4 separate regions of the Homo sapiens genome follow, and all the other regions are linked to region 4. The links come from fine-mapping of genetic effects on gene expression. A gene starts in region 4. Each other region holds a variant in brackets. All regions are shown on one strand. Distances are between the middles of the regions.

Region 1 (2,685 bases), 24 kb after region 4:
ATGATTTGCAAATATTATCTTCCATTTCATGGGTTACCTTTTCACTCTGTTGATTGTGTTATTTGATGCATGGAAGTTTTTAATTGATGTAGTCCAATTGATCTATTTGTTTCTTTGGTTCCCTGGTTCCCTGTGCTTTTGGTATCAGATCGAAGAAATCATTGCCAAATCCGAGGTCATGAAGCTTTTCCCTTATGTTTTATCCTAAGAGTTTTATGGTTTCAGGTCTTACATTAAGATCTTTGGTTTTTTGAGTTAATTTTTGTATATGGTGTAAGTTAAGGGTCCAACTTCATGTCTAACATTAATTTTAATAGCCATATAATATTCAGCAGTGTGGATATTTCATAATTTAGTAGTTTTGCTGTTATAAACAATGTCATAATACATTTTTATATTGGTGCTTTTATTCCTGTAAGATCGATTCCTAAAAGTGGGATTGCTAAGGCATATAAGTTGTTTATCCACTCCCTTTTAGGGTAGCCAGGAAAGCCAGGATTCAAGTATACACGTTTGTTAATAAATGCAGTGAATGGTAAGGTTAAAACTGCCAAGAACTTAAGCACTTTAAAAGCATTTTCATCTGAACAAACTTGTGAGGAAGTTATTTGAAAACTAGGGGAAATGAAGAGAAAGACTATTTTAAAACTGCTGGTAGCAATCTTCCTTTCTTACAAGATTTGCCTTATTTAATCTCTTCCAACAAAAGTAGGTTGATGTTTTTTCCTGGTAGGCAAAAGATGAGAGCGGGTTTGGCCTGGCTGTCCAGAGCATGAAGGGCACATATTGGTCTGTTGTCAGGCTCAGCAGCATGGCTGACTAAAGACATTGACATCATGACATTGTCATGTTGCTCTGCTGTTGCCCCTGGCTCTAGCTGGCCTACTTGTAAAGGGAGTGGTGCATGGAGAAGCACAAGGTAACCTCCCAGTGAGCACCTGGCCCACAGAATCCCTTCTTTTCTATAATTCTATTAGGTATCTCTTATGTATTTTAATGTCAAAGTATAATAATATCATAGGGGTGTCTTACATTTATGAAATCTTTCTTAATAATGTTTGAGTTTAGGCCAGGCACAGTGGCTTATGCCTGTAATCCCAGTACTTTGGGAGGCCGAGGCAGGAGGACTGCTTGAGGCCAGGAAGTTTGTGACCAACCTAGCCAACATAGCGAGACCCTGTCTCATAAAATAAAATAATAAAATATAAATGAAAAATAAGCATGTTTAAGTTTAGATCTTTATAGAAGATTTCAAGATCTGCAAATAAATATTATCCCCTCTTTTTTAGACTTCCTGGGAATGAAAATGGTTGGTGAGCTGCTACGAATGTCGGGTGCCTTTTTCATGCGGCGTACCTTTGGTGGCAATAAACTCTACTGGGCTGTATTCTCTGAATATGTAAAAACTATGTTACGGGTAAATGCAAATAATTCCCAACTACTCTTAAGCCATA[T/C]TTTCTTCACTGATGTTTGCTCATTTAAACTCTTAACTTCTGAATAGAACACTTAGCTATTTTGCTTTCCCTCAAGAACTGCTTATAACCTCAGCAATTGGTTTAATCTGTGTGACTCTCTTGTTTAATTTTCACTGTAAGCTGTGTTTGTTCAGGAAGCTTGGGAGGGAGCTTGGGAAAAGGAATCAAAAGAAGCATTTATCATTTTGAGAGTAGGCAATGGGTTTTGTGTTTTGTTTGTTTTCTCTTTAAAGAATGGTTATGCTCCTGTTGAATTTTTCCTCGAAGGGACAAGAAGCCGCTCTGCCAAGACATTGACTCCTAAATTTGGTAGGTCACTACAGATTAAAAGGAAAAATACAAACCCAAAGACATCAGCTGCTACATAAAACTTGACGCTTTATTTAACAAGATATTCTTTTCAAGTGTAAATGTATAACTGTTGATATTTACGGGATTAGTGTATAATGTATGCTTTTAGTATTTTCCGTTTATGTGCTCATGTTTGCTCTGCTCTTCAATATGTTGATGAAGCATTTCTCCCTGTGTTTTGCAGGTCTTCTGAATATTGTGATGGAGCCATTTTTTAAAAGAGAAGTTTTTGATACCTACCTTGTCCCAATTAGTATCAGTTATGATAAGATCTTGGAAGAAACTCTTTATGTGTATGAGCTTCTAGGGGTTCCTAAACCAAAAGAGTCTACAACTGTACGTGAGCTTGATTTTAGCTTAATTGAGAGAATGTGCTGACTGACACATCAACTAATTTCTAAATTTACTGCTTTTCGTTTTCTTCCCCCCCTGTTATGGTACTATTAGGGGTTGCTGAAAGCCAGAAAGATTCTCTCTGAAAATTTTGGAAGCATCCATGTGTACTTTGGAGATCCTGTGTCACTTCGATCTTTGGCAGCTGGGAGGATGAGTCGGAGCTCATATAACTTGGTTCCAAGGTGTGACCTGTGTTTTAATAACTGTCTTAGAAATGAGGATTAAAATCCAAAGGTGTGAGTTGCAATGCTGGAGTTGACCACTTCTCTTGATTTACTTAAGATTACAGAGAAAATGATCAGAAATGCTGTTATCATTCCGTTTTCATCAGTGGAAACCTTCAATTAAAGAAGAATTATGTGTTTGTCCCAAAAAAAGATAAGCTGTGAGATATGTATGTCAAATATGCAAAATCAGACAATGATCATGTTTCTCAAGGGAACTAAAGTGGGAATAAATAATG
Region 2 (2,685 bases), 38 kb after region 4:
AGTAGCCACCTCTGGAAGTGACATGTAAGCTGAGAACTGGATTGAGCAGGAGCCAGCCCCTAGAGTGGCAGGGTTGGAGTGACGGAGGAAGGGACAGTGGAGTGCAGTGTGCCAGGAGAAAATAGTGATCAGGACGTCCTGGGGCAGGTTCCAGAGCTCCCAAAAGATCAACATGGCTGGAACAAGAGTCACAGATAGTGAAATTGAAGACAGAGGCAGGCGCATTAGTCAGTTTCAGGGTGCCATAACACAACAGCTTAAACACAGCTTAGGCAGCTTAAACACAGACCTATTTTCTCACATTTGTGGAGACTGAAAGTCCCAGATCAAGGTACTTGCATAGTAGGTTCATTTTGAGGCCCCTTTCTGGGCTTGTAGGTGGCTGCCATCTTACCGTGTGCTCAGAATGACCTCTGGGTGTACTCGGAGAAGAAGCAAGTTCTCTGATGCCTCTTCTTTTAAGGACACTGATCCCATCATGAGGCCCCCGTCGTGACTTCATCTAACATTAATCACCTCAAAGACTCCTCTCCAAATATAGGCACATTGGGTTAAAGGTTTCAACATATGAATTTGATTCATGTTGGGATTACAGGCATAAGCCACTGCGCCCGGCCTCAAAAGTCTCTTAAGGCGGGATTCTGGGATTACCTGCATTCAGGGGTCCTGCAATGTGTGTGTGTGTTCCCCAGGACCAGGCTGTTTCTGCTGCACATTGAGATCGGAGAGCCATCTTCTCCATGCATTGGTGACCAGGAGGCCCTCTCTGTGGCTCTGCTTGGGGCTGGTTCTCGATTTCTTTGGGAAGCCAGGGAGGAGTCTGTTGAGATTGACCAAGAGCGAGTTGAAGAGTCAGTTGAACAGTGTTCCTGGCTGAGGACTCTCCTGTATGCCTGTTGAATAGGGGACCTGAGCTGCTGTTCTCCAGGGAGAGAAAAGCTGTGAGTCCAGGGCAATTGGGAGAACAGGACCCTGGCCAATTCTTGCAATGTAGACATGCCTTAGAAAGAATCCCCATACACCCAATTCGTTACTTGTTTTTCTTTACCCTGACACTCATGCTGTGCATGTACATGTTGAAGAATGAGTCAGATGACCTTTATTTCCTTGTAGGTCTGTTTGTAACACATGCCAAGTTTAGACAAAGACTTTGGAGTTTTGGGTGCAAGTGGCTAGACTTGTCTCCTGGCCAGCTCTGTCATTAGTCAAGCAAGCAGACAATGTGGAGGTGAAAGGAAAATGGGGTGCAGTGAAAACCAAATGAGGCTCTGCAGCAGAAGCAGCTCTAGGTGGCTGGGCATGGTGGCTCACACCTGTGATCCCAGCACTTTGGGAGGCTGAGGCCAGCGGATCATGAGGTCAAGATATCAAGACCAGCCTGGCCAACATGGTGAAACCCCATCTCTACTAAAAATACAAAAGATTAGCTGGGCGTGGTGACACGCGCCTGTAGTCCCAGCTACTTGTGAGGCTGAGGCAGGACAATTACTTGAACCCGGGAGACAGAGGTTACAGTGAGCCAAGATAGCGCCACTGCCTGGTGACAGAGCGAGACTCCGTCTAAAAAAAAAAA[A/C]AAGAAAAAAAAAGAAGCTCCAGGCATGGGAGCAGAGCTTATCACTTCTCAATTTCGTCATTAACCACCCTCTCTCGACACTTTAAATAAACCTAAAATTATTGTGAAAGAATAACATGCTTACTGTGCTACCAACCTTCAAAGTATGTACTCTGTCCCCAACCCCAGACCTGCTGCTACACACACCCATACCTTTCAACCACATTGCTAGCTGGATGCAGAGGCTCGGGCCTGTAATCCCAGCACTTTGGGAGGCCAAGGCGAGAGGACCACTTGAGCCCAGGAGTTCAAGACCAGCCTGGGCAACATAGTGGACCCCATCTCTACAAAAAATACAAAAATTAGCTGGATGTAGTGGGACACACCTGTAGTCCCAGCTACTCAGGAGGCTGAAATGAGAGGATCACTTGAGCCTGAGAAGTCAAGGCTGCAGTGAGCTGTAACTGCACCACTGTACTCCAGCTTGGATGATGAGTGAGACCCTGTCTGAAAAAAAAAAAACATGGCTTATGCCCCTTCACTACCTACTGCCTATAAATTCTGGAGCTGCCACTGCTTTGAAGTAAGTAGAAAGAAAGCCTGCAGGCCGGTTATGGTGGCTCATGCCTGTAATCCCAGCACTTTGGGAGGCTGAGACAGGCAGATCACTTGATGTCAGGAGTTCGAGACCAGCCTGGCCAACGTGGGGAAACCCTGTCTCTACTAAAAATAGAAAAAATTAGCCTGGCATAGTGGTAGGTGCTTGTAATCCCAGCTACTCAGAAGGCTGAGGCAGAAGAATTGCTTGAACCCAGGAGGTGGAGGTTGCAATGAGTCAAGATAAAATACAAAAAATTAGCCTGGCGTGGTGGTGGGCGCCTATAATCCCAACTACTCAGATGGCTGAGGCAGGAGAATCGCTTGAACCCAGGAGGTGAAGGTTGCAGTGAGCCGAGATCGCACCACTGCCCTCCAGCCTGGGTGACAGAGTGAGACTCCGTCTCAAAAAAAAAAAAAAAAAAAAAAAGCTTGCAGCATCTGGTTTTTCAAGACCATCTCCCCATCAAACACAGTATAATGTAGTAGCCAAGAAAGCAGTATCTGGAGACTGACTGGGTTTGAAACCCAGCTCT
Region 3 (2,653 bases), 31 kb after region 4:
AGCCTTGTCAAAGACCAGGTGATTCTGAAAGTGGACTCCGGAGACTCGGAAGTGGTCGATGGGCTTATGCTCCAGCACATCACTCTCCTCATGTGCTCAGCTTATAGGAACCAGCTGCTCAACATTTTTGTGCGCCCATCCTTAGTAGCAGTAGCATTGCAGATGACACCAGGGTTCAGGAAAGGTAATTTTCAGGAATGCAATCTTGACTTTTAGAAGAGGTCTGGCCATTCCATTCCATTTAGGGAGCCACATTTGAAGCCTTGTAATGTTCAGCCTCACGCCGGTGAAGAGCAGGCCTATCACTGAGAAAAAGTTAGCTTTGTTCCCCAAATACTTGTTCATCTGCTTCGAATTTTGGAATTGGGAGGACCTGGAAATAATCTAAACCTTTCCTTCTATAAATATGGAAAATGAGGCCTAGAAAGTTGCATAATTACTGAGAGAAGGATCTGGCATTTGAGTACAGTTCTCCACTTCCTGGTCTGCGGCACTGTTTTGGCTGTGCCAGCTCCCTGATCCAGCAAAGGCAGGTGGGCAGATGAGCAGTCAGCAGTCGATGAGTACTCCCGAGATGCATGGTCTTGTTCTAATTGTATCAGGAGTATAAAAATGAGTACAGTACACGTCATGTTCACAGGAGCCTGTAGTCAAGGCCAGGGGGTTCTGTCAAGGCCCTATGTTAGAATTACTAGGGGAGTGAGCCCCACCCCAAAGTTTCTTCAGTTGACCTGGGGTATGGGCCAGCCATTGGTGTTTGGTTTTGGTTTTGGTTTTGGCTTTTCAAAGCTCCACAGTGATTCTAAGGAAAAGTGCTACAGATATAATAAAGATACCAGGAAATATGAATATAGAGGGAAATTAAGAAATCAGTACCTTTCCTTCCCTACTAGGGAGCCATGGGGTAGGGAAAAATGAAGCGTCCTGGCCTCTAAGGACTGTGATGTCTCGCTGAGTAGAAGCCTGGTTGTAGGTTAGAGTCAATCATTTAAAAACTATGCTAGGGCCGGGCGCAGTGGCTCACGCCTGTAATCCCAGCACTTTGGTAGGCCGTGGTAGGAGGATCACGATGTCAGGAGTTCGAGTCCAGCCTGACCAACATGGTGAAACCCTGTCTCTATTAAAATACAAAAATTAGCTGGGCATGGCGGCGAGTGCCTGTAATCCCAGCTACTTGGGAGGCTGAGGCTGGAGAATCGCTTGACCCCAGGAGGCGGAGGTTGCAGTGAGCCAAGATTGCACCATTGCACTCCAGCCTGGGTGACAGAGCGAGACTCCATCTCAAAAAACAAAAAACAAACTATGCTAGACCGTAGTTTGCTCTGTGGGTAAGATTTGGGTTTAATTTAGCTTCCCTCAGGGGACTTAATTCTTGTCCCTGTTACATGAATAAAATATGCCTTTGAAATACATTTTGTGATAGTAAGGACTTCCTGGTACTCCCTTAAAGTTTAAAGGGCAATGTTGTAATTTTACATGATGCATTTATTTCCAGAGGATGTCTACAGTTGCTTTCGCTTCCTACGTG[A/G]TGTTTTTGCAGATGAGTTCATCTTCCTTCCAGGAAACACACTAAAGGTAAAGTGCTTACAACAAAGAGCAAGTATGTTTGCAGTGTGAGTTCTAGAAATGTTAGGGGTGAATTCACAGATGTGTCTCAGGCAGTGTGCCATCCCTTTCTTCAAGGCAAAGTGGGGCAGACTTCAAGAGAAACTGGGGCGCTCACAGTTCAGCAGACTCTAGTTTGATTCTTGATCAAGTTTAATTAATAACTTAGGGATTATATGGTGAGAGGAGAGTCATTCTTTGAACTATCAGTGTGGCCATTACAACTAAACTAACTTTATTTTAGTAAACGTTTAAAAATCAGCACACAGCCGGGCGCAGTGGCTCATGCCTGTAATCCCAGCACTTTGGGAGGCCGAGGCAGGCGGATCACGAGGTCAAGAGATCGAGACCATCCTGGCCAACATGGTGAAACCCCGTCTGTACTAAAAATACAAAAATTAGCTGGGCGTGGTGGCGCATGCCTGTAGTCCCAGCTACTCAGGAGGCTGAGGCTGAGGCAGGAGAATCACTTGAACCCGGGAGGTGGAGGTTGCTGTGAGCCAAGATTGTGCCACTGCACTCCAGCCTGGTGACAAGAGGAAGACTCCATCTCAAAAAAAAAGAAACCAAACACAACAAAATCAGCACACATTTTCCTGTTAGCAAGTTGTTAGAATGAGTCACCCAGGCAAGTGCCTTTTACTTTGAGAGTAGTGAGTGCTGGTCCTGCCTGGTCTAGACAGCTGAGGGGTCATCAGGCTCGCAGAGCTGGACTGCTGCTGGGTTGAAGTGGGAAGTGACAGTAGATGAGAGGCATGTTAGGTGTTTGTGTGCTTTAAGGATAAGAGGTTTGATTCTGTAGGGAGTGGAACAGGAGTGTTGGAAACTTTTTTTTTTTTTTTTTTTTTGAGGTGGAGTCTGGCTCTGTCGCTCAGGCTAGAGTGCAGTGGCGCAATCTCAGCTCACTGCAAGCTCTGCCTCCCGGGTTCACTCCATTCTCCTGCCTCAGCCTCCCAAGTAGCAGGGACTACAGGCGCCCACCACTACGCCCGGCTAATTTTTTATATTTTTAGTAGAGACGGGGTTTCACTGTGTTAGCCAGGATGGT
Region 4 (2,685 bases):
CCTTACTCACATGTATTACAAATACCACAGAGCTCTCTAAATTACCAGCTGCTGATTTATGCTTGCTACTATTTGCTTAATCTTTTATACAATAAACATTTAAGAGCCAACTAAACTTTGGCATTAAGGATATAAAAATGAATAGACACATTCAATGCCTTCAGAGCTCCTACCATGATTTCCAGCCTGTGTTGACATGAACTATATTATTTTGCAGAATAGTCTTTTCCTCTAGATTTTAAACTTCTCAAGGTCAGAGACTAAGTCTTCTCTGTCCTCCAATATGTCCAAGGGCACAGAAATGCTAGTTAATACAAGCATGGGGTCTGGGGCTAGAATCAGAACCCAGGCTCTGCAAAAATTACCAGTCAGACAACCTGCATCAGGTTTCATGAACTTCTAGTACTTGTTTCTACATCTGCAATCATGGATTTATGACAGTGTCTATTTCATGAAGTTGAAAATTAAATGAGCAAATACACGAAAAGCATGTGCTATATGGCAAGTTCTCAACAGTTTTAACTATTATTCCTACTGTTTAGGTGAACTTAGAATTTTGAGCAGTCATTCCAAAATAAAAATAGCTTTTAAAATATCACGCTGTAAATTTAAGAAATGTGTGTTGTCCTGAAATCTAATGATTTTCTTTGGTGCATGTGCAAAGGGTGTCACCTTCTCCCGGGAAAGCTCTTCAGAGTATGAGGCACTGTCTTCCTACTGACATGCCATGCGACTTTAATAGGCTCTTTTATTTTCCTTTTCCCCCATCAAGACAAAGAACGGAGAGTAAAAGATCAGCGCACTTGTTTAAAAAAAAAAAAGTCGTGAAAAGGACAACTCGCCAAGGACTATGATGTCTCTGGAGAGGGACACACAAGGATGAAGCTGGTGTATTATCCAACAGGCCCGAGGCCCCAGAGCGAAATGACACCATCGCACCAGGGTCAGGCAGGTCTTGGGGGTGGCATGGGGAAAGGGGACTTCCCAGGGCTCAAGAAAACGTGGAAAAGCGGGCTACTTTTAAATCGGAAAGCCTTGGTGCTTCCTACAAGCAAGTAGGATGGTCCCCACACTTGGGGACGAGTTGGAAGGTTTGATGAATAACTCAGCAGAGCCCGGTCGAGGGGTGACTTCCGATGGAGAAATGTGTTCGCTACTGGAACCAGGTGGGACGAAGGGTGCTTGACATGCAAGAACCTTTAGCCTCAAAGCAGAGGCCAACCCAGGACGGGCAACACAGGAGACCCACGTTCCTCAAATCTGTTCTCCACGTGGGCTCCTGGGACCCCGCACTCACCAAAGTCGTAAAGGTTCTGGAGCAGAGCGTCAAGAAGTGTCGGAGAACTGGGAGGCGTGGAGGACCCCGGCCCTTGCTCCTGCGACATTGTGGGGTCAGCCGAGGAATCAACCCTCATTCTGCCGCGCTGCACCCCCGCTTCCGGGTTCCGCGACTGCGCGCATGCGCTGCAGGGCCCTGCGCGGCTTCCGTCCTGGCTGAGATGGCGGCGCCCGGGATCCTGTGTAGCGGCTGCAGAGGGTGCCGCCGCCCTAGGCGAAGTAGGGCCGTCCTGAGCGAAAGAACCGCCCCCAGCAGGAGCACCACCACGGCTTAGCAAAGAATCCCAGACCCCGCCCGGGAAGGCAGCCGCACCATGGAGTCTTCCAGTTCATCTAACTCTTATTTCTCCGTTGGCCCAACCAGTCCCAGCGCTGTCGTGCTCCTCTACTCGGTAGGCGCCCAGGGAAAAGAGGCCCAGAGCGGAGCCGCGCGAAATAGTACCCCTTTCTCCCAGTCCCTATTCCTCCGGCCCACCACCCTTGCCCAAAAGAGCTGGCCCCTAGGCTCCCGAGGAGGGGTTAGTTGGTTGGATTGGTTTCCAGGACAACAGTGTATCGCTGTGTGTCTGTGTGTGCATGCTTTTGGAAGTTTCTACGGATTATGGTTCCTTTGGTTCCTTTCCACTTTTTCCTTCTCTTTCTTTCTATCAGGCCCTGGGGCCTTCAGAAAGCTCCTGGACACGAGAATGAGGAATGAGAATTGGAGTCTCCCCATCTCTAGCGAGGGCATGTCGAGCTACCTTTTGGGCAAACCTGAGAAACTTGCGGGTTTGACCCGCCCTGAGATAGCCTGTGGCTCCGCACCCCGCCCTATGCTGCTGTTATATTCCTGGGAGTAGAGCACTTGGCTTGTATGTGGGAATAGAGTTTTAAACACTTCAGGAAAATTTAGAACTTCTAGACATTTTTATTGCCTGTTCTTGTCTTCCAGTCATTATTGTACCTTTTCCACAAATCATTTTGGAGGACAGCCAGCGCCACCCAGCTTCTCTCCCGCTTGTCTTTTTTTCCTCCAACCCCCTCTTCCTCTCTTGGTTTTAACGGGTCTTTTTGGCTGGCAGATGTTGGTCACCCACGATTTTCATGAAGAAATTATGAGATGGGAGCTTTATAGCCTTCAGGATTGCACAGACCTGGGGCAACTGGTTTGGTTTTTGTTTGTTTCTTGTTGTTTTTAACCACTAAATTAGTTTTTAGCTACTTTAGGAGAAAATGAAAGAATTCATTTTAAAAGCATATTAGCATATCCTGGTGATTACTGTCCAATTTTGGCTTAAATGTAGTGTTCATTTGTGCAGAAAGGTCAAAACAGGGATAACACAGCAGAGCAAGATAAACACCCCAGTT

What was found. PIP is the estimated chance that this variant, and not a neighbour inherited with it, causes the effect.
Region 1: its variant is fine-mapped to the expression of GNPAT in lung (TOPMed, PIP above 0.99).
Region 2: its variant is fine-mapped to the expression of GNPAT in blood mononuclear cells (TOPMed, PIP above 0.99). The same link has a PIP of 0.9 or more in lung and whole blood.
Region 3: its variant is fine-mapped to the expression of GNPAT in whole blood (INTERVAL, PIP above 0.99).

The regions. Positions count from the first base shown.
Region 1 is chr1:231,264,004-231,266,688 of GRCh38, forward strand. It overlaps GNPAT (glyceronephosphate O-acyltransferase), which reads left to right. Exons shown (of 16, transcript NM_014236.4): 5 at 1,290-1,417; 6 at 1,709-1,784; 7 at 2,011-2,162; 8 at 2,274-2,404. Among named protein-coding and RNA genes, the nearest start is that of GNPAT, 24 kb to the left of the region's middle. The variant T/C (reference allele first, on the strand shown) is at 1,455.
Region 2 is chr1:231,278,166-231,280,850 of GRCh38, forward strand. No RefSeq gene overlaps it. Among named protein-coding and RNA genes, the nearest start is that of GNPAT, 38 kb to the left of the region's middle. The variant A/C (reference allele first, on the strand shown) is at 1,574.
Region 3 is chr1:231,270,817-231,273,469 of GRCh38, forward strand. GNPAT (glyceronephosphate O-acyltransferase) reads left to right here. Exons shown (of 16, transcript NM_014236.4): 10 at 1-184; 11 at 1,496-1,575. Among named protein-coding and RNA genes, the nearest start is that of GNPAT, 31 kb to the left of the region's middle. The variant A/G (reference allele first, on the strand shown) is at 1,529.
Region 4 is chr1:231,239,727-231,242,411 of GRCh38, forward strand. GNPAT (glyceronephosphate O-acyltransferase) reads left to right here and starts at 1,486. Exons shown (of 16, transcript NM_014236.4): 1 at 1,486-1,730. The coding sequence starts at 1,653. It overlaps FSAF1 (40S small subunit processome assembly factor 1), which reads right to left and starts at 1,449. Exons shown (of 7, transcript NM_152379.4): 1 at 1,298-1,449. The coding sequence starts at 1,415. RefSeq lists enhancers at 1,179-1,518, 1,499-2,388.